Linked DNA regions of Homo sapiens: regions 1, 2 and 3 are each linked to region 4. Evidence: fine-mapped expression QTL. A gene starts in region 4. Each other region holds a variant in brackets. All regions are shown on one strand. Distances are from middle to middle. Region 1 overlaps HFM1 (helicase for meiosis 1). Region 2 overlaps HFM1 (helicase for meiosis 1). Region 3 overlaps HFM1 (helicase for meiosis 1). Region 4 holds the start of HFM1 (helicase for meiosis 1).

Evidence for each region. PIP is the estimated chance that this variant, and not a neighbour inherited with it, causes the effect. A credible set is the group of variants that fine-mapping cannot tell apart.
Region 1: its variant is the best candidate, but not a certain one, in a credible set for the expression of HFM1 in prefrontal cortex (GTEx, PIP 0.84).
Region 2: its variant is the best candidate, but not a certain one, in a credible set for the expression of HFM1 in subcutaneous fat (FUSION, PIP 0.64).
Region 3: its variant is the best candidate, but not a certain one, in a credible set for the expression of HFM1 in subcutaneous fat (FUSION, PIP 0.62).

The regions. Positions count from the first base shown.
Region 1 is chr1:91,352,373-91,360,264 of GRCh38, reverse strand. It overlaps HFM1 (helicase for meiosis 1), which reads left to right. Exons shown (of 39, transcript NM_001017975.6): 14 at 6,966-7,009; 15 at 7,113-7,214; 16 at 7,614-7,759. Among named protein-coding and RNA genes, the nearest start is that of HFM1, 49 kb to the left of the region's middle. The variant T/C (reference allele first, on the strand shown) is at 4,319.
Region 2 is chr1:91,370,351-91,378,242 of GRCh38, reverse strand. HFM1 (helicase for meiosis 1) reads left to right here. Exons shown (of 39, transcript NM_001017975.6): 11 at 60-218; 12 at 2,516-2,716; 13 at 2,797-2,885. Among named protein-coding and RNA genes, the nearest start is that of HFM1, 31 kb to the left of the region's middle. The variant A/TTA (reference allele first, on the strand shown) is at 5,095.
Region 3 is chr1:91,301,256-91,309,147 of GRCh38, reverse strand. All of the region lies in intron 30 of HFM1 (helicase for meiosis 1), which reads left to right. Among named protein-coding and RNA genes, the nearest start is that of HFM1, 100 kb to the left of the region's middle. The variant AAT/T (reference allele first, on the strand shown) is at 4,513.
Region 4 is chr1:91,401,441-91,409,332 of GRCh38, reverse strand. HFM1 (helicase for meiosis 1) reads left to right here and starts at 4,496. Exons shown (of 39, transcript NM_001017975.6): 1 at 4,496-4,535. RefSeq lists a silencer at 4,522-4,901.

The DNA.
Region 1 (7,892 bases), 49 kb after region 4:
TTTATCCAGCTTGCCATTCTGTGCCTTTTAATTGGGGCATTTAGCCCATTTACAATTTAAGATTGGTATTGTTATGTGTGAATTTGATCCTGTCATCATGATGCTAGCTGGTTATTTTTCAGACTTGTTTATCCTTTCCATATTTAGTGCTTCCTTCAGGAACTCTTGCAAGGCAGGCCTGGCGACTTCCCTCAGCATTTGCTGTCTCTGAAAAGAACCTTATTTCTCCTTTGCTTATGAAGCTTTGTTTGGCCAGATAGGAAATTCTGGGTCAGAAATTTTTTTCTTTAAGAATGTTGAATATTGGCTCCCAGTCTCTTCTGGCTTGTAGGTTTTCTGCTGAGAGATCCACTGTTAGTTTGATGAGTTTCCCTTTGTAGGTGACCTGACTTTCTCTCTGGCTGCCCTTAACATTTCTCTTTCATTTCAACGTTGGAGAATCTGATGATTATGTCTTTTCAGGTTGATGTTCGTGTGGAGTATCTTCCTGGGGTTCTCTGCATTTCCTGAATTTGAATGCTGGGCTGTCTTGCTAGGTTGGGGAAGTTCTCCTGGAAGTTCTCTTGAAGTATGTTTTCCAGTGTGGTTTTGTTCTCCCTGTTTCTTTCAGGTACCAGTCAGTTGTAAGTTTGGTTTCTTTACTTAATCCCATATTTCTTGGAGGTTTTGTTCATTCCTTTTCATTCTTCTTCTTCCTTTTTTTTTTTTTTTGTATTCTTGTCTGCCTGTCTTATTTCAGAAAGATAATCTTCTAGCTCAGAGATTCTTTCCTCCATTTGGTCTATTCTGTTATTGATACTTGCGATTGCATTGTGAAGTTCTCGTGTTGTGTTTCTCACCTCCATCAGATCAGTTATGTTCCTCTCTAAACTGGCTGTTCTGGCTATCAGCTCCTGTACTGTTTTACCATGGTTCTTACCTTTTTTTGCATTAGGTTATAACATGCTCCTTTAGCTCAGTGAAGTTTGTTATTACCCACCTTCTGTAGCCTACTTCTGTCGATTCAGCCATCTCAGCCTCCAGCCCAGTTCTTAGCTGGAGAAATGTTACAGTCATTAGGAGAAGAGACACTATGGCTTTTTCAGTTTTCAGTGTTTTTACGTTGACTCTTTCTCATCTTTGTGGGCTTATCTACCTTTGATCTTTGATGTTGCTGACCTTTGAATGAGGTTTTTATGGGATCTTTTTTGTTGTTGGTGGTGGTGTTTTCTGTTTGTTTTGCTTTTAACAGGCCACTCTACTGTAGAGCTGCCGCAGTTTGCTGGGGATCTGCTCCAAACCCTAGTTGCCTCAGTTTCTCCCGTACCTGGAAATATCACCAGTGAAGACTGTGAAACAGCAAAGATGACAGCCAGCTACTTCCTCTAGAAGCTCCATCCCCAGGGAGTACTGACCTGTTGCCAGTCTGCATGTACCTTTAGGAGGTGGCTGGAAACCCCAGTTGGGATGTCTCACCCAGTCAGTGGAACAGGATCAGGGACCCCCCCAAAGAAACAGTCTGACTGTTTTTTTGGTAGAGCAGGTGTGCTGCATTGCCAAGGCCAATATCAAGGTGCTTTGCCCTATGTTCTCTTCTGGGAGTTTTATGATTTCAGGTCTTACATTTAGATCTTTTGTCAATTTTTGAGTTGATTTTTGTGTATGGTATAAGGGTGCAATTTTATTCTTTTGGATATGGAAATTGTTTTTCCAGCCTCATTTATAGAAGAAACTATTGTTTCCCCATTTTTTTTGGTGCCCTAATGGAAAATTAGTTGACTGTGTATGTTTGGACTTATTTCTGGGCTCTCTGTTCTGTTCCATTGGTCTGTGTTTCTGTTTTTATGCAAGTACTATATTGTTTTGGTTAGTCCAGCTTTGTAGTATAATTTTAAATCAGAAAGTGTGTAGCTCCAACTTTCTTTTCCTTCTCAGTTTTGCTGTCACTATCCAGGGTTTATTGTGGTTCCATACTAATTTTATGAAAAAAAATTTTTTTTTTGAGATGGAGTCTTGCTCTGTTGCCCAGGCTGGAGTGCAGTGGCGCGATCTCGGCTCACTGCAAGGTCCGCCTCCCAGGTTCACACCATTTGTATTTTTAGTAGAGATGGGGTTTCACCATGTTAGCCAGGATAGTCTTGATCTCCTGACCTTGTGATCCACCCATCTCGGCATCCCAAAGTTAATTTTATGATTTTTTCTTCTATTTCTGTGAAGGATGCCATTGGAATTTTGATAGGGATTGTATTGAATCTGTACTTCTTTGGGTAGTATGGACATTTTAACAATATTAATTCTTTCAATCCATCAACACAGGATATCTTTCCATTTATTTTTGTCTTGGATTTCTGTCACCATTGTTTGATAGCTTTCAGTGTACAGATCTTTTACCTCCTTAATTAAACTTATTCCTAAGCATTTTATTTTTTTATGCTGTCATAACTGGGATTGTTTTCTAGATTTCTTTTTCAGTTAAATTATTATTTTTGTTTAAAAATGCTACTAATCTCTGTATATGGATTTTGAATCCTGCAACTTTACTGAATTATTAGTTCTAACAGTTTTTTAATGAATCTTTGAGGTTTTTTTACATGTAAGATAATGTTGTCTGCAAATAAAGATAGTTTTACTTCTTCCTTTCAAATTTGAATTCCTTTTATTTTTTTCTTATCTGATTGCTCTTGGTAGTACTTCCAGTACTGTGTTGAATAGAAGCAGTGAGAGTGGGCATCCCTGCCTTGTACTGTATCTTGGTGGAAAAGCTTTCAGTTGTTCCCCATTGATTATGATGTTGGCTGTGGGCTTTTCATAAATGGCCTTTGTTACATTAGTTGAGAAGTTTTCCTTATATGCCTGCGTGTTAAGAGATTTTATCAAGAAAGGATGTTGAACTTGCTGTCAAATGCTTTTTCTGCACCAATTGAGATGGTCTTGTGTTTTTTATCTTTCATTCTGTTAATGTGATATATCACAGTGGTTGATTGGCATATATTAAACCAGCCTTGCTTGCCAGGAATAAATCCACTTGGCCATGGTGTATAATCCTTTTTGATGTGTTGTTGAATTCAGTTTGCATATATTTTATTGAGGATTTTTGCATCAATATTCATCAGAGATACTAGCCTATAGTTTTCTTGTAGTGTCTTTATGTGGCCTAGGTATCAACGTGATAGTAGCCTCACAAAATATGTTTGGAAGTATTCCCTGTAGCTGTATTTTTTGGAATAGTTTATGAAGTATTGGTGGTAATTCTTCTTTGAATGTTTGGTAGAATTCAGTTGTGATGCTGTCTGGTTCTGGGCTTTTCCTTGTTGGAAGATTCTTCATTACTACTTCAATCTCATTATGTGTTATTGGTCTGTTTAAGCTTTCTATTTCTTCCTGATTCAAACTTAGCAGGTTGTATTTTTCTAGGAGTTTGTCCATTTCCTGTAGGTTATCCAATTTGTTAGTATTAATATATAATTGTTCATAATAGCCCCTTATGATCTCTTTGATTTCTGAGGCATCTGTTGGTGATTTCTCCAGTTTCATTTTTTATTTTATTTGTTTCTTCTTTTTTTTTCCTTAGTCTAGCTAGATATTTGTTTATTTTATTTTTTCAAAGAACCAAGTCTTGGTTTTATTGATCATTTTCTATGTTTTTTTGGTGGATCTCTATTTGATTTATTTCTGTTCTGATCTTTATTATTTCCTTTCTTCTGCTAACTTTGCATTTAGTTTGTTCTTTTGCTAGCTCCTGTAGGTATAATGTTAGGCTGTCTATTTAGTATCTTCTTTTTTTAATATAGGCACTTATTGCATAAAATTTCCTCTTGAGTTCAAGACCAGCCTGACCAACATGGGGAAACCATGTCTCTACTAAAAATACAAAATTAGCCAGGCGTGGTGGTACATGCCTGTAATCCCAGCTACTCAGGAGGCTGAGGCAGGAGAATCGCTTGAACCTGGGAGGCATAGGTTGCAGTGAGCCGAGATCATGCCATTGCACTCCAGCCTAGGCAACAAGAGTGAAACTCTGTCTCAAAAAAAAAAAAAAAATTCCTCTTAGAACCACTTTTGCTGCATCTCATAGGTTTTGGTGTGTTGTCTTTCCATTGTTACTTGTCTCAAGATATTTTTTAATTTCCCTTTTGGTTTCTTTGACCATTGATTGTTTAGGAGCATGTTGTTTAGTTTCCACATACTTGTGATTTTTTTCAAGATTTTTCCTGTTATTGATTTCTAGTTTCATATTGTTGTGGTCAGAAATGATACTACATATGATTTCAATCGTCTTGAATTTAGATTAATTAAAAATAGTTAAATCTAGTTTTGTGGCTTAATGTATGATCTGTCC[T/C]GTAGAATGTTTCGTATGCTCTAGAGAAGCGTATACATTCTGCTGCTATTGAATGCAAAGTTCTATATTTGTCTGTTAGGTCCATTTGACTCAAAGTACAATTCAAGTCCAGTATTTCTTTGTTAACTTTCGGTCTGGTTAATCTATCATTATTGAAAGTGGGATATTGAAGACCCCTCCTATTATTGTATTGTTGTCTATTTCTCTCTTCATGTCCTTTAATAATGTTTTATATATATGTTATGCTTCAGTGTTGGGTGCTTATATATTTACAATTCTTATGTGCTCTTGATGAATTGACCCCTTTGTCGTTAAATTATGACCTTCTTTGCCTCTTGTAACAGTTTTTGACTTAAAGTCATTTTAACTGATGTAAGAATAGCCACCCTGCTCTCTTTTGGTTACTATTTATGTAGAATATTTTCTTTTACCCCTTAACTTTCAGCCGGTGTCCTTATAGCTAAGATGGATCTCTGGTAGGCAGCATGTAGTTGGATCTTGGTTTTTTTTTTTTCTTCTATCAATTTAGACACTATATGTCTTGATTGGAGAATTTAATTCATTTGCCTTCAGGGTTATTATTGATAGATAAGGACTTACTCCTGCCATTTTAATTGTTTTCTGGTTGCTTGGTAGATCAGTTGTTCCTTTCTTCCTCTTGTTGTATAAGTTTGTGATTTGTTGTTTTTCTGTAGCGCTAAGCTTTGATTCCTTTCTCTTTCTCATCTGTATCTTCTGTAGCTTCTTGCTTTGCAGTTACCACAAGGCTTACGTAAAATATCTTAGAGTTATAATAGACTATTTTAAACTGAACTTCAGTCACATACAACTACTCTAGATTTTTGCCCTCCCCCCACAATTTATGTTTGTTGACACAGTTTACATCTTTTTATATTCAGTATTCCTTAACAACTCATTGTAGCTGTATTTTTGACTATTTTGATTTTTCACCTTCATAATAGAGATTTGAAAGATTTGCACACCACCATTACAGTGGTGGCACATTCTGAATTTGACTGTGTATTTACCTCTACCAGTGTGTTTTATGCTTTCATATGTTTTCATGATACTAATTATCATTCTTTTGTATCTGGTAGAAGAACTGCTTTAATCATTTCTTATAAGGCAGGTCTAGTGGTGAATTTCTTCAGCTTTTATTTATCTGGCTGAGACTTTATTTCTCCTCATTTCTGATGAACAGCTTTGCTTTGTATAGTATTGTTTACTGGCAATATTGTCTTCTTTCAGGACTTTGAATGTATCATCTCATGCTCTCCTGGCCTGCAAGGTTTCTGCTGAGAAACACTGATAGTCTAATGGAGATTCCCCTATAAATCACTTGACACTTTTCTCTTGCTACTTTTAAAATTCTCTCTTTGTCTTTGACTTTCCACATTTTGGTTATAATGTGCCTCAGTGAGGACCTTTTTGGGTTTGAACGTGTTTGGTGATTTTGAGATTCATGGAACTGGATGTCCATGTCTCTCCCAAGACTTGGGAAGTTTTCAGCAATTATTTTATTAAATAAACTTTCTATGCCTTTTCCTCATTCTTCTCCTTCTGGAACCTCCATAATATGAATACTTGTTTGCTTAATGGTGTCCCATAAGTCCTATAGGCTTTGTTCACTCTTTTTTGTTCTTTTCTCTTTCTTTTTTTTCCCTCTGACTAGGCTATTTCAGAAACCTAACTTCATTTCACAGATTCTTTCTTCTGCTTGTTTTGGTTTGCTGTTGAAGCTCTCTATTTTTGATTTCATTCATTTAATTCTTTAGCTCCAAGATTTCTGTTTGGTTCTTTTTGAATAACTTTCTTGTGCAGATAATGAATTGTTTTCCTGATTTCATTGACCTGTCTATCTGTATTCTCTTGTATCTCAGTGAGTTTTCTTAGGATCATTACTTTGAACTCCTTTTCAGACAGTTTACAAATTTCTGTTTTTTGGAATCAGTTACTGGAGAATTATTGCGTTCCTTTGTTGGTGGTGTATTTCCTGGTTTTTTGGTTGGTTTTTTTTTTTTTTCATGTTTCCTGTGTCCCTCTATTGATGTCTGCACAACTAGTGGAATAATCACCTCTTTCAAATTTATAGAGAGGCACTTTCCTTTAGTCATTCTGTTCAAAATGTAGTTAGTTGTTTATTCATTGTTTTGCTCTTTTTTGTGGGGAAGATGAGCATTAGGCATCTCTAGTTGACCATCTTGCTTCCTCCTAACCTAGTTTTTTTAAATGCCATGTCTCAGAGCACTGGAAACACTATGGTTTATTTCCATGTTTTTTTTTTTTTTTTTTTTGCTTATTTACTAGTAATATAGTAGTTTTAGAAATGGTTACTTCTTATAATTTTTTTTAGGCAAATTATGAGAGTAGACTTTTATACTGACTTGTTAATCACCAATTATGTTGTTTTCTTGGGGAAAGTGAGTTTTCCAAATTCTTGGTTTAAAAGTGAGCTTTAATATTGTAGCTCATAAGTTTAGGGACTTTTGAATATGAAAGTTGGATATTTTCTACTTCTTAAAATAGTTTTCAGATAATGATATTGTGAAAATTTTTTGATATCTCTAAGTTTTAAAATAATAAACTGTTTCAGAGTTCTCTAATGTTACTGGGAGTAACTCAATAATTTTATGGTATTTTTAAATAGGTTACAGAAGTATGCATATTCCGTAAGAGATTCAAAACTGAGAGGTAGGTTTAGAGATAATTTTTGAATAGCATTTTCACATATAGATGAAAGGTGCCAATTATTGATGAAATATTAATAGTAACAGCTGATATATTTCTATTACAGATATCTTAAAAGATGGTGCTGCTTATCATCATGCTGGTATGGAGCTGTCAGATAGAAAAGTAGTTGAGGGAGCTTTTACTGTTGGAGATTTACCAGTTCTTTGTAAGTAAAACATATTTCTCGTGGATACTATAAAATATTTTGGAAAATTATTTTTAAGAGGAAAAAAGGAAAAAGCGCAAGTGTTCTGCTTGTTTCTGCTTTTCTTCTGAGAATATAAAATTAAGTGGTTACCTATGCATGTAGATGCTACAGTAAATTCTTTGGTAGTGTTTAGTTCTTTATCATATTGTTGAACATGGTGTAATTTGAAAAACAAGAATTTAATAGGTTTTTGGATTTAAGGTGTGTTACTATTTTAGATTGTAATGCTCTTTTTTCTTTTCTAAATTTCTTATGTATGAGTTTTTATTACATTTATAAGAATGTCTTTTATTAAAAAATGTTCCTGAAGCAACAAAGTTAAATGGCTCAAAATTACTATGTCTTAATCTGATGCAGTTACTACCAGTACTTTAGCTATGGGAGTAAATTTGCCTGCTCACCTAGTAGTTATAAAATCTACAATGCATTATGCTGGAGGACTGTTTGAAGAGTACAGTGAAACAGATATTCTACAGATGATTGGTAGAGCTGGTCGACCTCAAGTAAGTGACAATAACTTTGCTTTTTATACTTAAAAACATGATAAAAACAAAAAAATTGTGTATTTTTTGATTAGCATGTCATAATTGTATCAGGCTTAAAAGTAATATAGCAGAGAAAATTTACCTTTAGTGG
Region 2 (7,892 bases), 31 kb after region 4:
ATTGATTAAATGTATTTTTAATTCTATAGCTAATGATTTTTTCTTGATTTCCTGCTTAGGTACATATTGTAAAAGATGAAAATCGTGGTCCAACTCTTGAAGTTGTAGTTAGCAGAATGAAAACTGTACAGTCTGTTTCTCAGACTTTAAAAAATACCAGCACTGCTATTCCAATGCGATTTGTAGCTGTATCTGCAACAATTCCAAATGCTGAGGATGTGAGTTACAATTTTAACTGAGCTCTTAGGTTTTTTATGACTTGTGAAATATTTAGTCATCTTGATCATAGAGAAAAGTGAATTTTTTTGTCCTTTCCTTTAATAGGAAAGTATGTTGTAGAAAGTTGTGGCTAGATCTCATAAATATAACAGTATTAAGGCCATAAAATTTGGTTAATCAGGTTTAATAAAACATTTTTTGTGGACATGTGGACATCTCGTTTGCTAGTATCTAACAGTCTTAGTTTCCTGGGTTTCAGGTGCCTCATAGTAACTTCACTAACAATATGTGATGGTTGTTGTAACTAGCTGACTCTAATTGTATAGCAAAGTATGGTGGAGAATAAAAATAATTGCTTAGATGATTACCACTTGCTCCTCAATTCTGTATGCTTGGCATTGTGGTAAGCACTAAATATAGATGCAAAAGTGAAAATATATGGACTCCGTCCTTGAGGAGGATCTCATGGTTAATGGGGTACATGGACATGTAAAGAAATAATCATGTGCACTATTATACTTTCCATAATGAATATATGACTTAATTTTTTCTTCAATTTTTAAGTAAACGTCTTGAAAAATAATAGTCTCACTCTACTTTCTCACTCCTACTTACTTCTCAGCCTACTATAATACTGGTTTTCCCCTACTACTTCTTAGAAATTGTTTTCACAAATAGCCACTATATTGTCTATTCCAATGGAATATTTTGTCTTTATCGTTAATTTGGCACAATTAATCATTTTCTTGTTCTTGAAATGACAACTTGTTTTGTTCATATTTTTCAAGAATAATATAGAAAAATTTAAAGTTTATTACAACAACAAAACTAAATCCTAGCGTTTATCTTTACACATGTAGGAAGCATAATGTACATACTTTTTTTTGTAAGCATGTAGGAATCATAATGTACATACTCTTTTTTTGACCTGCATTTCACCTTTAAACATTTTTATATCATTAAATATTCTTCAATACTATTTTTGTGGTTTTATTGTAATTTATTTATCAAACACTATAACAATGGAAGATTAAGTTATTTCCAATTTTTGCTATTGTAAACAGTGAAATTAATGTATCTGAAACATCCATGATTATTTCCTTAGGATGAACTTCTAGAATGAATTAACTGAATCAAAGGATATATAAAACTCTAAAGAAGTGCTTCTTTCAATAAATGTTATATTCATTTACACTTCTACCAGAGGCTATTTTCCTGTATCCTAACACTGGATAGTATAATAATGGAATTATTATTGCTATTATTATTTTTAAATATTTATAGGATTTATTGTTGAGTGTAGTATCTCATTTAAAAATTTTTTACTTCTTTGATTTCTACTAAGGTAAAATTTTAAATATATTTATCAACTACTTTGAGTTCTTTTTTTAAAACTTGCCAGGTTATGTCATTTGCCTTTTTTTCACATTGGAATACTAAATTTTTCTTAACTTATTTGTAAGCAATTATTATGTACTAGTACTGTCTAATTCTTGAAACTTTTCCCCTTTGTGATAAACACTACTTGTGTGAATGCTGTTTCTGTCTCTTTTGTCAGATCTTCTTCCTCCGTTTTTCCCTAAATTAAGGTTTTTATTCTTGGCCTTCTGCTCCCCTCTGTCTGTAAATTCTTATGTGATCTTATCCCTACTCATGATAACCTTGAGATTATTTTAATGTTTTCTACCTGTCAAAACAACAGTCAATTTCATAGCAGAGCATGGAGCCTGATTATTAACTGGGCTATGTAAAGATAAGGATTGCTTACCACAGTTCCAGAATCTAGCTTGAGTCTGAAGTTTGCTTTTGGCACTGGCATCTCTCAAGTGTTTGTTGTTTGCTTAAAAACTTGTCAACCCTTGCCAACCTAAACCAACTATTAATTTGCTGCTATTTATCTAATATTTAGGACAACACAAAAGAGATGTCAGCCATTTTGAGGCGTAGTTTTCAAAAATAGCAAAGAAGTTAAAATAATAGTGAGAAATTTGGCCTCTATGACAAAATTGATAATTTTTCTTTGGATTCTTATGAAGGAAAATAAAACAAAATAATAATAATTAATTGGAAGTTTACCATGGTGAAAAGTGGGTATAATCTTGAAATACTACTATTGGTAGTGTTGACCACTATATCAACAGAATAATATTAATGGAATATGTAATATTGAAAAAGACAGCATACTTGATTAAATACTTTTATAGCTTGACCTTAAAGTGCTTTGTAATTGGGTTGTTTTTAGCAATAAAACTTTACTAGAAGAAAATTTTAATGCACATATTTTTGTGTTTCAAAGATTGCAGAATGGCTTTCAGATGGTGAAAGACCAGCTGTGTGTCTGAAAATGGATGAGAGCCATAGACCAGTGAAACTTCAGAAAGTGGTCCTTGGATTTCCCTGCAGTAGTAACCAAACTGAGTTTAAGTTTGATTTAACCCTCAACTACAAAATTGCCAGTGTTATACAAATGTACTCTGATCAGAAACCCACACTTGTGGTATGGATTGTTGATAGCTTATTTTTTAGTATATTCAGTTTTTAACATGATTAATACAAACGTTATGAATTTATTTTCAGTTTTGTGCAACAAGGAAGGGTGTGCAACAGGCTGCTTCTGTTCTTGTGAAAGATGCTAAATTTATTATGACTGTGGAACAGAAACAGAGGTATAGTATTTTATTTTTTCATGGAAGTAGAAGGACTTTTAGGGCTCATCTAGATGACATGAGAAAATTAGGCTTGTCCCATAACCTTGGGGTAAACCTCAGTGTCCTCATCTATAAAATAAGGATAATGATAATTTTGAGGATTAAGTGAGATAGTGAATCTTCGTACAGGGGTGATCCAGATTTCTTGAATGATAAAGATTATCCATACTACTATCTATTTTTTTTAACCTAATTTCAATCCAGCATCTTTTATAGTCTTTCACTAAAGCTGATCTTGCGAATTAATCTTTAAGGACTCTCTATCATATTTGGCCACTTCCACCTTACTTAAACACTCTGGACTCTGTGCTTCCATGATCATTTCTACTGATTTTCTTCCTCCTTTGCAGGCTGTTCGTTCTCAGTCCCCTTTTCACCTCTTCTACCCAACTCTTAAATGTTGACATTCGAGTGAGTATACCTGAGGTTCATTCTTTCTAATGCCACACTCTTAGGTGTTTGTAAGTACTCACATGAAGTTCAGATAATATTTATGCATGTCTATGAATTCCCACATTTATGCCTTCGGCCCAGACTTCCTTACTGAGCTCCAGGCCTATAGTCCATCTGTGTAACTGAATCCAGTTGTATGTCTACCAACAGTTATCTCAAACTCACTATGTACCAAATAGAACCTTGGTTCTTGCTCTCAGACCAGCTCCTTCTCCAGTGTTCCCCATCTTAATTATACATTATCTCCTTAGTTACTCATAGCAGAAAACTATGATTGATATCTTCTTCACCTTATACCCCACAATCAATTACGAAGTCCTGTTTATTCTTACTTCTAAATATATCTCAAATATGTCATTTTGTCTCCATCAACACTGCCACTTCCCTAATTCAAGTCACTAGTAATCTCTTGCCTAGGCTGTATCCTTTTCTTTAATCACTACACACACACTCTCTTATCCAGCTTTATTCTCTACATAGCATAGATTGTGTAAGATTGCAAATCTAAATGGCAGTTTCCTGCCTAAAACCCTTTAATAGATTCTTATTGTTCTGGGGATTAAATGCTAAATCCTTAGTGTAGCCTGCAGTAGCCCATGTAATGTGATGCCTAGCCAATTCTCCAGACTTTTCATGACCATTCTCCCCCTTTAATCATCACGGTCAAGCTGTATTAGCCTCTGTGTTCTGTGAATACACCAAACTGTTACTCTGTACAGCATTGTCTTGCATGGTGCTTGCTTTTACTGGAATGGTTTTCACCTAACTCCTATTTATCCTTCATGTCTAAACTTTAATATCAGTTTTCCATAGCCATCAGTTTCCCTGTATTTACTTTTATAAGCAACCTGTACTTGATTTCATAGCACTTACTATAATTATAATATCCTTTTGTTTAATAGTTATTTTAATATCTTTTCTATTAATTAGATTATCAACTTCTTGAGGAAAGGGGGACTCATGTTCATCCTGCTTACCACTCAATCTTAGCAGGTGTATTAGGTCATTCTTGCATTGATATAAAGAAATTTCTGAGCCTGGGTAATTTATAAAGAAGGGAGGTTTAATTGGCTCACAGTTTTGCAGGCTGTACAAGAAACATGGCACCACATCTGCTCGGCTTCTGGTGAGGCCTTGGGCTGCTTACAGTCATGGCAGAAGGCAAAGGATGAGTTGGTGTATCACATGGTGAGAGCAGGAGTAGGGGTCGGGGGGTACCATACACTTTTAAGCAACTAGATGTCACAAAAACTCACTCACTATTGTAAGAATAGCACCAAGCCATGAGGATCTGCCCCCATGATCCATTCACCTCCTACCAGGCCTCACCTTCAATACTGGAGATTACAATTTAGCATGAGATTTAAATGGACAGCATCCAAATTATAGCAGAAGGTCTCAGCAGAGTGCTAGCACATGATTACTATGTAATGAACATTAACTTATTATTATTGTTAATAACTTCTGGAAATCAGTAAATATGTTTAGTGGTAGACCTCAGACTAAAATTGGACATGTGGATATGAGCAGATACTTATTTTTTCTGCCTAATTTTGTATGGTGGGGGAATATACTTCTCTCCGCTTTGGGTCAGATCAGCTTTCCAATTACCAGTCTGTTCCTTTGCCACCACCTCTGGTTGCTTGTCAACCAAAGATATGTAGCAAGCCTAGAGGAGCCAATTTAGTCTTCTTTACATTCTTTGTTTTTTTTT[A/TTA]ATCCACTAAAAAGGTAGACTATAAAGATAGTCTATTAAAGAATTACAAACATAGCCACTTATTCACCCTCTAGATACTATTTTGACACTTTTCCTTCCATTTAAAGGATTTAACTTGATCTTCTTAGTTACTACCATATGAAAAAAAATCTCTAGGGTGTGAAGCATGTAGAGTAGTTCTTTTATAATACACGTCAACAAAGCAAGATTAAGCAATAAGAAACAGTAGAGAGCAAGACAGAATGAGAAAAACCAACAAAGAGCTCACAGTCAAAAAGTAGATGAAGTCTGAGAGGTAGAAAGAAAGGGAGAAAGTGAAATTATTGCTAATAAGAATACCATCAAAAAATGATTAATAATTTTCATACCAACTGCATGTAGTTTTATAGCATTCTTATGAATTTTCTTTTTTTTATTATACTTTAAGTTTTAGGGTACATGTGCACAACGTGCAGTTTTGTTACATATGTATACATGTGGTGTTGGTGTGCTGCACCCATTAACTCATCATTTAACATTAGGGATATCTCCTAATGCTATCCCTCCCCATTCACCCCACCCACAACAGGCCCCAGTGTGTGATGTTCCCCTTCCTGTGTCCATGTGTTCTCATTGTTCAATTCCCACCTATGAATGAGAACATGTGGTGTTTGGTTTTTTGTCCTTGCGATAGTTTGCTGCGAATGATAGTTTCCAGGTTCATCCATGTCCCTACAAAGGACATAACTCATCATTTTTTATGGCTGCATAGTATTCCATGGTGTACATGTGCCACATTTTCTTAATCCAGTCTATCATTGTTGGACATTTGGGTTGGTTCCAAGTCTTTGCTATTGTGAATAGTGCCTCAATAAACACACGTGCACATGTGCCTTTATAGCAGCATGATTTGTAATCCTTTGGGTATATACCCAGTAATGGGATGGCTGGATCAAATGGTATTTCTAGTTGTAGATCCCCGAGGAATCGCCACAATGACTTCCACAATGGTTGAACTAGTTTACAGTCCCACCAACAGTGTAAAAGTGTTCCTATTTCTCCACATCCTCTCCAGCACCTGTTGTTTCCTGACTTTTTAATGATCACCATTCTAACTGGTGTGAGATGGTATCTCATTGTGGTTTTGATTTTCATTTCTCTGATGGCCAGTGATGATGAGCATTTTTTCATGTGTCTGTTGGCTGCATAAATGTCTTCTTTTGAGAAGTGTCTGTTCATATCCTTCACCCACTTTTTGTTGGGGTTGTTTGTTTTTTTCTTGTAAATTTGTTTGAGTTCATTGTAGATTCTGGATATTAGCCCTTTGTCAGATGAGTAGATGGCAAAAATTTTCTCCCATTCTGTAGGCTGCCTATTCACTCTGATGGTAGTTTCTTTTGCTGTACAGAAGCTCTTTAATTAGATCCCATTTGTCAAGTTTGGCTTTTGTTGCCATTGCTTTTAATGTTTTAGACATGAAGTCCTTGCCCATGCCTATGTCCTGAATGGTATTGCCTAGGTTTTCTTCTAGGGTTTTTATGGTTTTAGGTCTAACATTTAAGTCTTTAATGCATCTTGAATTAATTTTTGTATAAGGTGTAAGGAAGGGATCCAGTTTCAGCTTTCTATATATGGCTAGCCAGTTTTCCCAGCACCATTTATTAAATAGGGAATCCTTTCCCCATTTCTTGTTTTTCTCAGGTTTGTCAAAGATCAGATGGTTGTAGATATGTGGCATTATTTCTGAGGGCTCTGTTCTGTTCCATTGGTCTATATCTCTGTTTTGGTACCAGTATCATGCTGTTTTGGTTACTGTAGCCTTGTAGTATAGTTTGAAGTCAGGTAGTGTGATGCCTCCAGCTTTGTTCTTTTGGCATAGAATTGACTTGGCAATGCGGGCTCTTTTTCGGTTCCATGTGAACTTTAAAGTAGTTTTTTCCAATTCTGTGAAGAAAGTCATTTGTAGCTTGATGGGGATGGCATTGAATCTATAAATTACCTTGGGCAGTATGGCCATTTTCAGGATATTGATTCTTCCTACCCATGAGCATGGAATGTTCTTCCATTTGTTTGTATCCTCTTTTATTTCCTTGAGCAGTGGTTTGTAGTTCTCCTTGAAGAGGTCCTTCACATCCCTTGTAAGTTGGATTCCTAAGTATTTTATTCTCTTTGAAGCAATTGTGAATGGGAGTTCACTCATGATTTGGCTCTCTGTTTGTCTGTTATTGGTGTATAAGAATGCTTGTGATTTTTGTACATTGATTTTGTATCCTGAGACTTTGCTGAAGTTATCTATCAGCTTAAGGAGATTTTGCGCTGGGAACATGGGGTTTTCTAAATATACAATCATGTCTTCTGCAAACAGGGACAATTTGACTTCCTCTTTTCCTAATTGAATACCCTTTATTTCTTTCTCCTGCCTGATTGCCCTGGCCAGAACTTCCAACACTATGTTGAATAGGAGTGGTGAGAGAGGGCATCCCTATCTTGTGCCAGTTTTCAAAGGGAATGCTTCCAGTTTTTGCCCATTCAGTATGATATTGGCTGTGGGTTTGTCATAGATAGCTCTTATTATTTTGAGATACATCCAATCAATACCTAATTTATTGAGAGTTTTTAGCATGAAGGGTTGTTGAATTTTGTCAAAGGCCTTTTCTGCATCTATTGAGATAATCATGTGGTTTTTGTCTTTGGTTCTGTTTATATGCTGGATTACGTGTATTGATTTTCGTGTGTTGAACCAGGCTTGCATCCCAGGGATGAAGCCCACTTGATCATGGTGGACAAGCTTTTTGATGTGCTGCTGGATTTGGTTTGCC
Region 3 (7,892 bases), 100 kb after region 4:
CTGCAGTGAGTAGTGACAGGAAGAACGCATTTAGAACTATTCTGTGAGCTCATGAGCCTTCATCTTCTTCCTTTTGAAGAACACAAAAGAGCTTCCATTTCTGGGTAGGATATAGTTTTGTGGTAGGCCAGTGCTTCCACAGCTACAACTATGAAAACCTTCATACCTTATAAAATTATAATTTTTAGGGCATCAGAGATTTGTGGAAGCACTAAGGACTAAAGGAACTAAATTCTTAATAAAAAGGCTAGGTAGACCATGCCCTGTAAAGGGGTTTACATGATCAGCCACTCACCATGTTTGCCTGACAGAGGGAAAGGGAAACTTCTTCTGGTGAAATGTAATCTGGAAACCACAGACACAGTGTCTGTCATATGATAAAAAAATTGTGAGGCCCACAAAGAGATAAGACCATATGACTGATAATCAACTGTGTCAAGAAACAAGCCAGACATGGTGACACACACTGGTAGTCCTAGATATTCAGGAGGCTAAGGCAGGAGGATTTCTTGAGCCCAGGAGTTTGAGGCTGTAGTGCACTATGATCATGTCTGTGAATTTACCACTGCACTCCAGCCTGGACCACATAGCAAGACCACATCTCTTTAAAAAAAGTATAAAATAATTATGAATATTTTAAAGAAAATATAGAAAAAATAGGTAAATGCATGAAAAGATGGAAAGTTTTACCAGATAATTAAAATCTATAAAGAGATTTAAATGGACTTTCTAGAATTAAAAATGCGATATCTGAAATGAAGAGCTAGTTGGGTAGGCTTAACATTAGATTCAATATAACCAAATATAGGATTTGTGGGCTTTGAGACATATCAGTAGAAAATATCTAAATTGAAGCCCAGAGATAAGAGAATGGAAAGAACACAAAGGAATATAATACTCAAAAAAAGGTCTAACATATGCATAATTAAAGTCCCAGAAGCAGAGTAGAGAGAGAATGGGACAAAATTAACATTCAAAGAGACAATGGCAGAGTCCATTTCAAAATAATAAAAGACACCAACCAACAGATTTAGAATTTTGGTAAACCCCAAACAGAGGCAAATACAGGGAAAACCACACCTGGACATATTGTAGCAAAACTGCTGAAAATGTTAAAATTAGACACATCATTTATGCATTACCTTCAAAATAACAACAGTGAAACTGACAGCTAACTTCTCAACAATAATGATGGAAAACAGAAGACAATGGAATGTCATATTCAAAATGCTACCAACCTAGGTTTCTGCCCAGTGGAAAATATCCTTCATGATGAAAGTGAAAAAAGAAAGAAGAGAAAGAAGAGAAAGAAAGAGGAAGAAAGAGAAAGAAAATAACTAAATGACTTTATCACTACTAGTATATTTATCAGCCTGAATTAAAATGAATACTAAGGCCAGGCTTAGTGGCTCATGCCTATAATCCCAGCACTTTGGGAGGCCAAGATGGGCAGATCGCTTGAGCCCAGGAGTTCAAGACCAGCCTAGGCAATGTGGTGAAACCCTGTCTCTACAAAAAGTTAAAAAAAATTAGTGAGTGTGGTGATGTGCACCAGTGGTCCCAGCTACTTGGGAGGCTGAGGTGGGAGGATCATTTGACCCTGGGAAGTTGAGGCTGCAGTGAGCTGAGATCACACTACTGCACTCCAGCCTGGGTAACAGAGCGAGACCCTGTCTCAAAATAAAAAATAAAATAAAATAAATACTAAAGGGATTTCCTTAGAGGAAAATGATCACAGATGAAAACATGGACATGCTGGGGGGAATGAAGAAGAGTAGAAAGGATAACTATATGACTAAATATAAGTAGACTATGTAAAACAGTAATTGAAATGACTTACAGAGTTTAAAATATATGTGGAAATAAAATGCAAAGCAAAAAAATACAAGCTTGCATCTCAAGAGTATACCATATCAAACATAATAATGTAACAAGAGAAAAACAGAAATCAGCGATACATAGGATGTAAATATACAACAGAGAAAAATCAACAAAGCTGAGATTTGGTTCTTAGAAAAGATAAATAAAATTAAGAACCCTCTATGAATGAAGACTGATCAAGAGAAAGAAAGAAAACACAAGTAACAATATCAAGAATGAAGAAGAGGATATTACATTGTATATCAAAAAGTTACTGAAGATATTCAAAAGCACAAAAACAAGACATTAACAATTTTATAATGATAAATTTGACATAGTTTGGGTTAAAATGAGAATATTTATTGAGAAGCAAAGCTTACCAAAACTGACAGAAGAAAATAAAATCTGAGTAGTCTGATACTAGTAATGAAATTGAAGCAATTGTTAGTAAAAATTTTTCCACAAAGAAAACTTGAGGCATGGATGACTTCACTGTTAATTTTTCTTAATTAAGAAGAAATAATATCAAACTTACCTAAACTTTTCCAGAGAATAGAAAAAAAGAGAATATTTTCTAATGTTTTGTTTTTTTAATGAGGCCAGTGTGTCAAAACCTGACAAGGACATTAAAAAGAAAGGGAAATTATTTAGCAACATATCTCATGAACATAGATCCAAAAGTCTTTAATGAAATATTCACAAGCTGAATTTGGCCATATTTTTTAAAAGCACAATTAAGTATGGTTTATTGCATGTATGCAGGAGAGGCTTACCATTCAAAAGTAGATCAATATAATTCACTATGTTAACAGAGAAAAAGGAGAAAATGATTTGATCCTCTTGATAGGTGTCAAAAAAGTTTGACAAAATTCAGTACTCATTTATGATTTAAAAAAACTCTTAGCAAACTAGAAATAGAAGGGAACTTCTTTTGTTTTGTTTTGTTTTTGTTTTTGAGACAGAGTTTCACCCTTGTTGCCCAGGCTAGAGTGCAATGGTGCAATCTCGGCTCACCATAATCTCCACCTCCCAGGTTCAAGCTATTCTCCTGTCTCAGCCTCCCGAGTGCTGGGATTACAGGCATGCACCACCACGCCCAGCTAATTTTGTATTTTTAGTAGAGATGGGATTTCTCCGTGTTGGTCAGGCTGGTCTTGAACTCCCAACCTCAGGTAATCTGCCTGCCTTGGCCTCCCAAAGTGCTGGGATTACAGGGTGAGCCACCACGCCTGGCCTGGAACTTCTTAAATATAAAGAATATCTACAAAAACTATAGCAAATGTCATACTCGATAGTAAAATATTAAACACTTTCCTATTGAGTTGGAGAATGTTACAAGAATGCTCTGTGTTATTATTTCTATTCGACATTGTGCTGGAAGTCTTAGTAATATAATAATACTTTAAAAAAGCAAAAAGGGGGCTGGGTGCAGTGGCTCATACCTATAATCCCAGAACTTTGGGAGGCCGAGGTAGGAGGATCACTTGAGTCCAGGAGTTCAAGACAAGCCTGGGCAACAGTGTGAAACTCCATCTTTACAAAAATAGAAAAAAGTAGCCAGGTGTGGTGGTGCTTGCCTGTAGACCCAGCTCCTCTGGAGGCTGAAATGGGAAGATCACTTGAGTCCAGGTGTTCGAAGTTACAGTGAGCTATGATTACACCACTCCACTCCAGCCTGGGCAACAGAGTGAGACCTTGTCTCAAAAAAAAGAAAAAAAAAGAAATAAATAAATTGTCATTATTTCTAAGCAACATGATTATTTATAGAGAAAATCCAAAAGACTCTATAGACATGCTGTTGGAATTAATATGTTTAGAAATATCACTGAATGCAGTCAATATAAAAAACAATTGTACAATAGCATCAAAAAGAATAAAATACTTAGGAATAAATTGAACAAAAAAGTGTAAGAAGTGAACACTGAAAACTACAAAACACCATTGAAATAAATTAAAGAAGTTCTAAATAAATTGAAAAATATTTTATGTTCGTGGATTGAAAGTCAATATTGTTAAGATGGCAGCACTTCTCATATTAATTCATAAATTCAACAAAGTCTGTATCAAAATCCTAGCTGTAGTTTTTGCAGAAATTCACAGGCTGATCCTAAAATTCACGTGGAAATACAAGGGACCCAGAATAGCTAAGCCAACCTTGAAAAGAAAAAGAAGGAAGGTAGAGGACTCACAATTCTTGGTTTCAAAACTTGTTACAAAGCTGCAGTGATTAAGACAAGGTGGTGCTGTCATAATAATAGACATAAAGATCAATGGAATACAACTGAGAGTGTAGAAATAAACCTTTACCTCTCTGCCAGTTTATTTTTGACAAGGATGCCAAAACAATTTGATGGTAAAAGAATTTGAAAATAATTTTTCAAGTAATAGGGCTGGGCAACTGCATAGACACATGCAAAAGGATGAATTTGGACTCCTACCTCATACCATATACAAAAATTAACTCAAAATGAATCAAAGACCTAAAGGTAAAACTTAAAACTATAAAACTCGCCAGGTGCAGTGGCTAACACCAGTAATCCCAGCACTTTGGGAGGCTGAGGTGGGTGGATCACCTGAGGTCAAGAGTTCAAGACCAGCTTGGCCAACATAGTGAAACTCTGTCTCTACTAAAAATACAAAAAAAAAAAAAAA[AAT/T]TAGCCGGCTGTGGTGATGGGCCCCTGTAATCCCAGCTACTCAGGAGGGTGAGGCAAGAGAATCGCTTGAACCCAGGAGGCGGAGGTTGCAGTGAGCCAAGATCGCTCCATTGCACTCCAGCCTGGGCAACAAGAGCGAAACTCTGTCTCAAAAACAAACAAACAAACAAAAACCTATAAAACTCTTAAAAGAAAACATAGGTGTATATCTTCATTCATTACCTTGTACAAGGCAACAGTTTCTTAGGTATGACATATAAAGCTCAAGTAACCAAAGAAAAAATAGATGAATTGGACTTAAGATGAAAACTTTTGTGCTTCAGAGGACACTATTCAGAAAGTGAAAAGACAACCCACGGAATGGGAGAAAATACTTGCAAATCATATATATCTGATAACTAACTTGTATTGAGTATATATAAAGAAATCTTACACTTCAACAGTAAAAAGACAAATAGCCCAATTAAAACTAGTCAAGGGGCCGGGCACAGTGGCTCACATCTGTAATCCCAACACTTTGGGAGGCCGAGGCGGGTAGATCACTTGAGGTCAGGAGTTCAAGACCACCCTGGCCAATATGGTGAAACCCCATCTCTACTAAAAATACAAAAATTAGCCAGGCGTGTTGGTGCACGCCTGTAATCCCACCTACTCAGGATTGAGTGGAAGGTGAGGTGGAAGAATTGCTTGAACTCAGGAGGTAGAGGTTGCAGTGAGCCAAGATCATGCCACTGCACTCCAACCTGGGTGACAGAGTGAGACTTTGTCTCAAAAATAAAATAAAAATAAAACTAGTCAAGGGATCTGCATAGACATTTTCCAAAGAAGTGATACAAATGGTCAACACACATATGAAAAGATGCTCTACATTGTTAGTCAATGCAGAAATGCAAACCAAAACCACAGTAAGATACCACTTCCCACTCAGTAGGGTGGCTTTAGTCAAAATGATGGACAATAACATGTGTTGATAAGGATATGGAGAAACTGGAACCCTCATACACTGCTAGTGGGAATGTAAAATTGTGCACTGCTTTGAAAAACAGTTGGTATTTCCTCAAGAAATTTAACATAGAATTAACATATGATACAGCAATTGTACTCCTAGGTGTATATCCAAAAGAATTGAAAACATATTCATACAAAAACTTAGACATGAATGTATATAGCTGCATTATTTATAATAGCCCAAACTGGAAACAACCCAAATATCTATCAACTGATGAATAGATAAGCAAAATGTGGTATATCCATACAATGGAATATTATTCAGCCAAAAAGAAAAACTACTGATGCATGCTACAGCACGGATGAGCCTTGAAAACATGCTAGATAGAAGCTAGTCACAGAAGACCAGATATTGTATGGTTCAATTTATATGAAGTGTCTAGAACAGGTAAATCTATAGAGACATAAAGTAGATTAGTGGTTGTCAGGGGTTGAGGGCAGGAATAAATGAGGAATGACTAATAATAGTTATATGGTGGGTTTTTTGTATGTATGGTGATGACAGTGTTCTGGAATTATATGATGACTGTTGCACAACCTTGGGAATATACTAAAAACCCACTGAATTGTACAGTTTAAAAATGTGAATGGTATGGTATGAATTATAATTTAATTAAGAAATTTAAAAGTCCATTGTATTCCTGTATACCAGCAAAAAGGATAAATTATAATTTTATTTTATTTTATTTTAATTTTAAATTATACTTTTAGGGTACATGTGCACAACGTGCGGGTTTGTTACATATGTATACATGTGCCATGTTGGTGTGCTGCACCCATTAACTCATCATTTAACATTAGGTATATCTCCTAATGCTATCCCTTCCCCCTCCCCCCCACCCCACAACAGGCCCCAGAGTGTGATGTTCCACTTCCTGTGTCTATGTGTTCTCATTGTTCAATTCCACCTATGAGTAAGAACATGCAGTGTTTGGTTTTTTGTCCTTGCGATAGTTTGCTGAGAATGATGGTTTCCAGCGTCATCCATGTCCCTACAAAGGACATGAACTCATCATTTTTTATAGCTGCATAGTATTCCCTGGTGTATATGTGCCACATTGTCTTAATCCAGTCTATCATTGTTGGACATTTGGGTTGGTTCCAAGTCTTTGCTATTGTGAATAGGGCCACAATAAACATACGTGTGCATGTGTCTTTATAGCAGCATGTTTTATAATCCTTTGGATATATACCCAATAATGGGATTGTTGGGTCAAATGGTATTTCTAGTTCTAGATCCCTGAGGAATCGCCACACTGACTTCCACAATGGTTGAACTAGTTTACAGTCCCACCAACAGCGTAAAAGTGTTCCTATTTCTCCACATCCTCTCCAGCACCTGTTGTTTCCTGACTTTTTAATGATCACCATTCTAACTGGTGTGAGATGGTATCTCATTGTGGTTTTGATTTGCATTTCTCTGATGGCCAATCATGATGAGCATTTTCTCATGTGTCTTTTGGCTGCATAAATGTCTTCTTTTGAGAAGTGTCTGTTCATATCCTTCACGAACCACTTTTTGATGGGGTTGTTTGATATTTTCTTGTAAATTTGTTTGAGTTCATTGTAGATTCTGGATATTAGCCCTTTGTCAGATGAGTAGATTGCAAAAATTTTCTCCCATTCTGTAGGCTGCCTATTCACTCTGATGGTAGTTTCTTTTGCTGTACAGAAGCTCTTTAATTAGATCCCATTTGTCAAGTTTGGCTTTTGTTGCCATTGCTTTTAATGTTTTAGACATGAAGTCCTTGCCCATGCCTATGTCCTGAATGGTATTGCCTAGGTTTTCTTCTAGGGTTTTTATGGTTTTAGGTCTAACATTTAAGTCTTTAATGCATCTTGAATTAATTTTTGTATAAGGTGTAAGGAAGGGATCCAGTTTCAGCTTTCTATATATGGCTAGCCAGTTTTCCCAGCACCATTTATTAAATAGGGAATCCTTTCCCCATTTCTTGTTTTTCTCAGGTTTGTCAAAGATCAGATGGTTGTAGATATGTGGCATTATTTCTGAGGGCTCTGTTCTGTTCCATTGGTCTATATCTCTGTTTTGGTACCAGTATCATGCTGTTTTGGTTACTGTAGCCTTGTAGTATAGTTTGAAGTCAGGTAGTGTGATGCCTCCAGCTTTGTTCTTTTGGCATAGAATTGACTTGGCAATGCGGGCTCTTTTTCGGTTCCATGTGAACTTTAAAGTAGTTTTTTCCAATTCTGTGAAGAAAGTCATTTGTAGCTTGATGGGGATGGCATTGTATCTATAAATTACCTTGGGCAGTATGGCCATTTTCATGATATTGATTCTTCCTACCCATGAGCATGGAATGTTCTTCCATTTGTTTGTATCTTCTTTTATTTCATTGAGCAGTGGTTTGT
Region 4 (7,892 bases):
AAGATTCTTGACTTTGGAGAGCAGAAAATATTTTAAATTCATTTTGGTAGGAGGAGTCAATTTCTGCCTGAAAAGAAAAAAAAAAACAGATTTCCTGAAATAAGAGTATAGGATCTTATACAACACCATTAAACACTCTCCTTAGCCATTTGGAACTCAAGGAATTGCTTTCTAATCAATTTATGTCATTATGTTCTTGGTTACATACATACTTACTAAATCTTTCCTAAAGAAAAATTATCCTGGCCAGGCATGGTGGCTCACACCAGTAATGTTTATACTGGTACTAATATATTTCTTCAAAGCCACTTGTTTTTCTGTTTGAGCACTTTGGGAGGTCAAGGTGGGCGGATTGCTTGAGGCAACGAGTTTGAGACCAGCCTGGGTAACATAGCAAGACCTCATCTCTACAAAAAATAAAAATAATTTTTAAAAAATTAGCAGGGTGTGGTGTGGTGGTATGTATGTGTGGTCCCAGCTACTTGGGAGGCTAAGGCAGGAGGGTTGCTTGAGCCCAGGAGGTTGAGGTTATGGTGAGCCATGAGGTTACAGTGAGGCATCACATAATTGCCCTCTAGCTTGGGCAACAGAGCAAGACCCTGAAGAAAGAAAGAAAAAGAAAGAAAGAAAGAAAGAAAGAAAGAAAGAAAGAAAGAAAGAAAGAAAGAAGGAAAGAAGGAAGGAAGGAAAGAAAGAAGGAAAAGAAAGAGAAAGAAAGAGGGAAAGAAAGGAAGGAAGGGGAAAAAAGAAGGGAGGGAGGGAGGGAAGGAAGGAAGGGGAGGAAGGGAGGAAGAGAGAAAAGAGAAAGAAAGAAAGAAAAGAGAAACAAAGAAAAAGAAAGAAAGAACAGAAAGATTTTTTTTTTTTGGTTTGTGCTTAATTCAGTCTTCCTTTTGTTATTTAAGTATCTACTGAATTGGCCCTAACTCCCTAAACTTTTCTTTCCTCCTGAGAATCCCATCATATCAAACTACCTTTATTTCCTTTTTTTCTGTTTTTTTCTCAGAAATTAATTTTGTAATTCTCAGATTCTTCCCAAATGATCTCTTCACTGTTTCTTGTCCAAATCTGACAATAAAAAACACAACACATTTCTGGCTGTCATCTGCAGAAAAATAGTCTTGAAACCTCAACATTTCTTGGTTCCTGCTTCTCTAGAGCCATCAACACTAATTTTTCTTTTTTCTTTCTTGCTTTTTTAGATACAGGATCTTGCTCTATTGCCCAGGTTGGAGTGCAGTAGTGGGATCACAGCTCACTGCAGCCTGGAATTCCTTGGTTCAAGCCATTCTCCTGCCTCAGCCTGCCAAGCAGCTAGGACTACAGGCACACACCACCACACCTGGTTAGTTTTTAAAATTTTGGTAGAGATGAAGTCTCGCTGTGTTGCCCAGCCTGAGACTAATTTTTCAATATCAATTTCTACTGACTAATCAGGGTGTAAAAGATGTGGATGTTACAAAGTGAAGAAAATTTTGGTTATGTTGGATACATCAGCTAGAACTCATGGCATTGGCTGTAATAGCATTACCATATGTCCCAGCAATTCCACTCCTAGGTACATATCCAAAGGAATTGAAAGCAGGGACTTGAACGGAGATATTTACACACGAATGTTCATAGAAGCATTATTCACAATAGCCAAAAGGTGGAAATGTGGAAACAACTCAAATGTCCCTTAGCCAGGATTACAAATGGATAAACAAAATGTGGTATATAAATACAATAGAATATTATTGAGCCTTAAAAAGGAGTAAAATTCTGATCCATGCTACAACATGGATGAACATTGAAAACATTATGCTAAGTGAATAATCCAGAAATAGAAGAACAAATATTGTATGATCCCACTTATATGAAGTACTTAGGATAGGTAAACTCATAGAAATAGAAAGTAGAATAGAGGTTACCAGGAATTAGGGAAAGGGGAAAAGAAGGAGTTCCTGTTTAATGGGCAGAAATTTCTTTTTTTTTTTCTTATACTTTAAGTTTTGGGGTACATGTGCACAACGTGCAGGTTTGTTACATAGATATACATGTGCCATGTCGGTTTGCTGCACCCATCAACTCGTCATTTACATTAAGTATTTCTCCCAATGCTATCCTTCCCCCAGCCCCTCACCCCCCAACGGGCCCCAGTGTGTGAAGTTCCCCTCCCTGAATGGGCACAAATTTCTTGTTGGGGATAATGAAAAAGTTTTGGGTATGGATAAGAGTGATGGTTATACAACACTATGAGTGTATTTAATGTCCCTGAATTATACACTTATATATGGTTAAAATTATAAATATTACGCATGTTTTACCACAATGAAAGAAAGAAAGCGCGCCTTCTAGTGGGAGCTGGGTGCAGAGAGAGCTCTGTATTCTTGGCTGCAGCTGTCTAGAATGGAGCCTGTCTTGCTAAGCTGGAACTTGGGAGTCTTGGATAAAATACCACAGAGCCTTGCCTTTCTTACCAAATTTTTGTATCTCTTTCTTGAAAAGATGTTTCTTCTTTTGCTGTTTGCCCTTAGGATCATTTCCAGAGGGTCTGAGTCATTTTTCTAGAATTTTCACCAGTTTCACTGAGAAGTGAGGTAGCAAAGCTCTTTATGCAGTCATGCCAGAAGTTGACCGGGAAGACTATATTTCAAATGTTAGTTATGTTATTCAATTTGGAGGATTGCTTATGACATTGTTGCACTGGTTGTAAAATTAAATCTTTAGGATTAAAATGTTTTCTTGAGAAATGTGGCAACATTACTAAAAACCATGGTAATCCCTCCCCCCAAAATGGGATTTTTAGTAACTTTATCACTGTCCTGAGGCTTCCTTTTAAAAACTGCAGCTTTGACATTTTTATTACATTATTTTAAGAGAAAGTAAGGCTCTATAGATTCCACATGCATTCTTGAATAAATGAGTGAGTGAATGAATGAATGTTTTTGTTTATGAACATGGTGGCCATTTGCTACTGTGTGCTTTGACAGTAAGACTCCCCTGTACCTGCCTGTTGCTGAATTCTACAATTCTATCACTCAAACCCTATCTTAGTTCAAGCTGCTATAACAAATTACCATAGGCTGGGTGGCTTAAACAACAAACATTTGTCACAATTTTGGTGCCTGAGAAGTCCAAGATCACAGTGCAGGCAGATCCGGTATTTGGCGAGGGCCTCCTTCCTGGCTTGCAGATACCGTCCTCCTGTATCCTCACATGGTAGGAAAAGAGCGAGCTAACTCTCTGGCCTCTTAAAAGGGCACAATCCTACTCATGAAGGCTCTACCCTTTTGAGTTAATTACCTCACAAAAGTCCCACGTTCAAATATCATCACATCGGGGGTTAGAATTCAATGTATGAATTTCAACACATTGAGGGGTTCACTATAACAAATGCACTGTTTCGTTATTTTCCTCTATGCAGTCTATGGAAAGTAACTTTCCTCTCCAGTATTTTTGAGAGGAATGATAATTCAACCTTTCTATTAAGAATAGTTTATGCAGTCAAAATGTTATTTTCTCCAAGAGACAAAGACTTGTTATTTTATCAGTATCCAAATAACTGGCTCACCCAATTACTGGAATAATTTTACATTTCAGAGAAGGTGAAAGAAATTAATATTCATGAGCATTTACTGTGTGGTAGGACTACTGCAAATATTATTTTATTTAACCCTTGCAGCAGTATCTAGGAGTTAGAGCTTATGAGTATCACTGAGGATGCAGAATTAAGACTTAAAGGTTGGGTCTTTTCCAAGGTCATATAGCTAATGAACAGTAGAACTGCAAGAAAAAAGAGAACAGGAATAGGGCAGTCAGACAGCAGTAGGTTGGCCCTAGATGTCACAGGTGGGGGTTTCCAAAGGAAAGATAAATGTCTCTGTAAGAAAAGCATCATTGATTCGTTGCTATTTTATCATCTACAAAACATTCCCTGCCAAATCTTCAGAGGACAATTCTAAAGAAACTTAAAAGGATAATTTATAGTTTGTTCATGTTTACAGCCTAAGAACACATTATTGCCCTGTTTTTATAAATTCATGTTGGCTAAACACATTTAAATATCATTGTGTTTTAGAATATTTATTTCTGAAATTTAACTTTATTTCTGAATCAAGTTCCCCAGTAATACCGACCTCATGAGTGCCACTGTGATATTTTATAAATAATATAGGTAAAACACTTTTTAGGTACGAAGAGACCGGAAGTCCCAGAGCTGAGGCCTGGCTAACTTTGATGAGAAAGGCAGGTTGGGGTATGTTTGTGGAGTGGTGGTTGTGGGGGTAGAGAAGCAGGTTAGCTTAGGGAAAGGGTACCATTTAGTAGACCCTTAGAACCCAGGATTAGGAGCTGTATTTAAAGAGAATAGACACAGTAAACTGCAAGAGATATATTCAAAACCAGTTATAAACTTTCGGAGAAAAAAAGGTAGGAAGGGAGAGGTTGGGGGCTTGGGCGATCCATTGCTTGGAGCTCGGCTTAGCCAGGCTTGGCGGTCCTCAGAGGGGCTGATAAATCGGCGCTCGACTGGCCTAGGAGCTGTCCGCAGGGAGGTGAGGAGAGGGGCCCGGACGCCCGCGGGGAAGGTGGGGACGGGGGCCCGACGCCCGCGGGGAAGTGGGGACCCAGCCGAGCCGTCCGGGCAGCGGTCGATCTCTAGAGCCGTCTGCCGGGCAGGCAGCGGACGGGCGCGGCGAGTTGTTGGTCACCAGGCGTCTCCAGGCCGCCGGCCCGCGCCAGCGCCTCAGCCGCATTTCCAGTCAGAAAGCGGTGAGGCCTGCGGCGCGCTCGGGCGCAGGGCGGGCCCAGCTCCCCGCGAGGTGGGACCGGCTGGGCGTCCGGCCCGCCCCTAAAGTCGGCTGATTGGTGTTCGGTTCCTGTGTCTTGTGTTCCGGTGTGTGGCGCCCCCTGAGCGAGCGCTGGGGGGGACGTACCCATCTGTCTGAGCCGCGGGTTTCACAGCGGTGGGAGGAAACGGGACCCGGGGGGTGGAGTGACGCGCCCCAGCGCCCCGTTCTTGTGCCACTCTCGGGGCCCTAAGGCCTCTGCCTTGGATTTAGGATATTCTCCTTAGGAAATCCACAGAGCTGTTATTTTGCTTTAGGTGCTGATTCGGTCCCCAGCCGGACCCTTCCAGCCAGCCCTGTTGGTGCCTGGGGAGAGGGGGTGAGATCTGGGGCTCCGACAATTGTATGGTCCTTTCCCAGGCCGAGCCTCGGAGTAATTTGTTCCCGTTGATTTTTCCTTCTTTGTCAGATTCTCTGCAGTTATTTGTGACGGTCGGTTATTCCCGTAAATGTTGGTCCCTACTTCTTCCTTAACTCACAAAAATTTCTAGCAAATCAATAATTTTTATCTGAGTTTCTGTACTTTTAAAATAAGGAGTATGTTTCTGAGTAAAAATTGTAAGAAGTAATAGGCCTGCAATTTTATACAATAAGTTTATACAATAATTGTATACAATAATTTTATACAATAAGTAAAGATTACAGAAGACAAAATGGTGAATTGTCATTAATATAACTAAAGATTAATTGTATCTAGTTGTATTAATATTTAACTAGAGATTGTCATTAATATAACTAGAGAAGGTCGGCACCGCAAATTATGTAGACTCAAAAATAGCTTAAGTATTTTAACAGTGATTATAGCAGAGCAGACACTTAAAACTACCTGGGATGATATTGTTTATTGTGTTTGGCAATCTAATTTTGTGCCACGTGCTGAAACTAAAACTTTAATAATAAATAATAGGAACTTAAAAAATCTGAATCTAAACCTAGAACTTTAATTAATTTAAAATAGCATCCCCTCACATCACAAACTCATACTGAACTGTAGCAAGGTCCCTTTTAGGACCTGTGTTTCTTTTTTAAAAAAAGATTTACATAATGAAAGTGCCAAATTCATCATCTTTTAGAACCTTCATGATTTTATTTACATAAATCCTGAACTAGAAAAAAATTTCACATTTTTTAACTGAACGTTGAAGATTGGGGCTCAAATTTTAAGTTTCTAAATTAACAGAAAATTATTTTTATTTGACACTATTTTTATAAACTGGTTCTTGCTAATGCATTTATTCCACAATGCATTCTTATGGACCATTTACTGTGTGCCAGGCACTATTCTGGGTTATTGGAACACATTAATGAGCAAAAAGTCCCTGCTTGCTCTAAAGGGAGAAACATAATAAACAACTAAGCATATACTATAATGTTAGTTATCAGTTCATGCTATGAAGAAAAATAATGCGGAATGAGAGGATGCAGTTTTAGATAAGGGGTGTTTTTTCACAGGAGTATATAAGAACTAAAATATGTACATGATATTTTTATTCTGAACCCAAACAAGTTATATTCTTGTATGCTAGAACTAGAAATCAAAAATTCTTTTGAAAATATTTGCTGTTTGTATAGGAGGTTTTTGTCAGTTTATGCAACGCTTTTCTTCCCAAATGTTTTAAATTTGTAGTTTTGTTGTCTATTTGTAGTTGCTTTAGGAAGAAAGTATTCAAGTGTATAAATGTTAGCCTTAAGATTTTTGACTTAAATTCTGAGGTAGCAAAGCCATATGAAACTGGTCTGGTGAGGTTTATTTTAGGAAAAGTTTCTTTTGTTTGAACATAGTTTTCCTAAAACTAGAAAGGGAACATTTTATTTGTTACTTTTTGGGCAATATAAAAACATGATTAACATTTTCATTTATACTTTTTCAGATAATTGTTTTCAAGTTCTGAAATTGTTTACTTAAAGCTGTTAAAGACTTCGCATATTTCTGAATGACTCCCTCTACCTCCTGCCCTATTATCCTAGGCTTCTATTTTTCGTATAGTCAAATTGTTTTAGACATTTATAGAACCACACTAGTTTGTTTCATTTTTACTACTTGTTTTTGTTGGTAACTGATTAATAGATAGAGAAAAATGAAGAGGGCAATTATATTAAACAGATGGAAGGGGGAAGAACCCAATAACGAAAACAGTGAAAAACCCCACAATATTCTATATCAGTAAGAACAGCCCTGAAGTATATATACAGGTTTAGTTCTCATACAGTAGCATTTGTCAAGTGTTGTATGTGGAAACATTCTCCCTTCCCCATATCACTCCCACTTGTATCTCATCCCCACATCAAGGAGGATTCAAAATTGGAGAGACATAATCTGACTTGGTAATGCGTATTTCTCCACTAGATGGCATTAATAGAATTTCTTTGATTGTAGTTTCTATCTTGAGGACAAATTTACAATGTATTAACTAAAACAGAAGAAACAGAAATGTGATTTATGTTTTACAGTTTGTTCGTCTGATTTTATGGTTTGTCATATAGAATGTTCTATGATGTTTAAGAATTTAGAAAAAAATAGGATATGCAGGGAAAAATAATTCTAATGGGAGCAATGTATGTATCTAGAGACTAGTTTTTTTTTTTAATCACATTTGCATCTTTGTTCAGCCCCAGATTTTTGTTATGTTCAAAGGTGGCCAATGCTGAATGTTTTTATCCTTTATGTTTAGATAATATCTCTGAGTGCAAAAATTATCTTTTAAAAAAGAATGTAAACGTGTGTAGTATATGCATTAACTCATATAAATAAATATGCATATGTATGTTAAACTTGTAATTTTTTTATTTTGAAAAAGTTCAAACCTATGAAAAAATATTATAATGAACCCCATGTACCTATTACATAGCTTTAGCTTTGATCAACTCATTGTCAATATTATTTCAATACTCCTTCATCTCTCCCCTTTATTTTGAAGCAAATCCCTGCATATGTACATAGTATATTGTTAGAGGTGCACACATTCACAATAAAATGTGCTGTCCTAACTTGAAAATAATGGTGTGAACAAAGTATTAAGAGCCCAAGAAGACTGATTAATTCTGCCTTGAGGAAGAAGACAA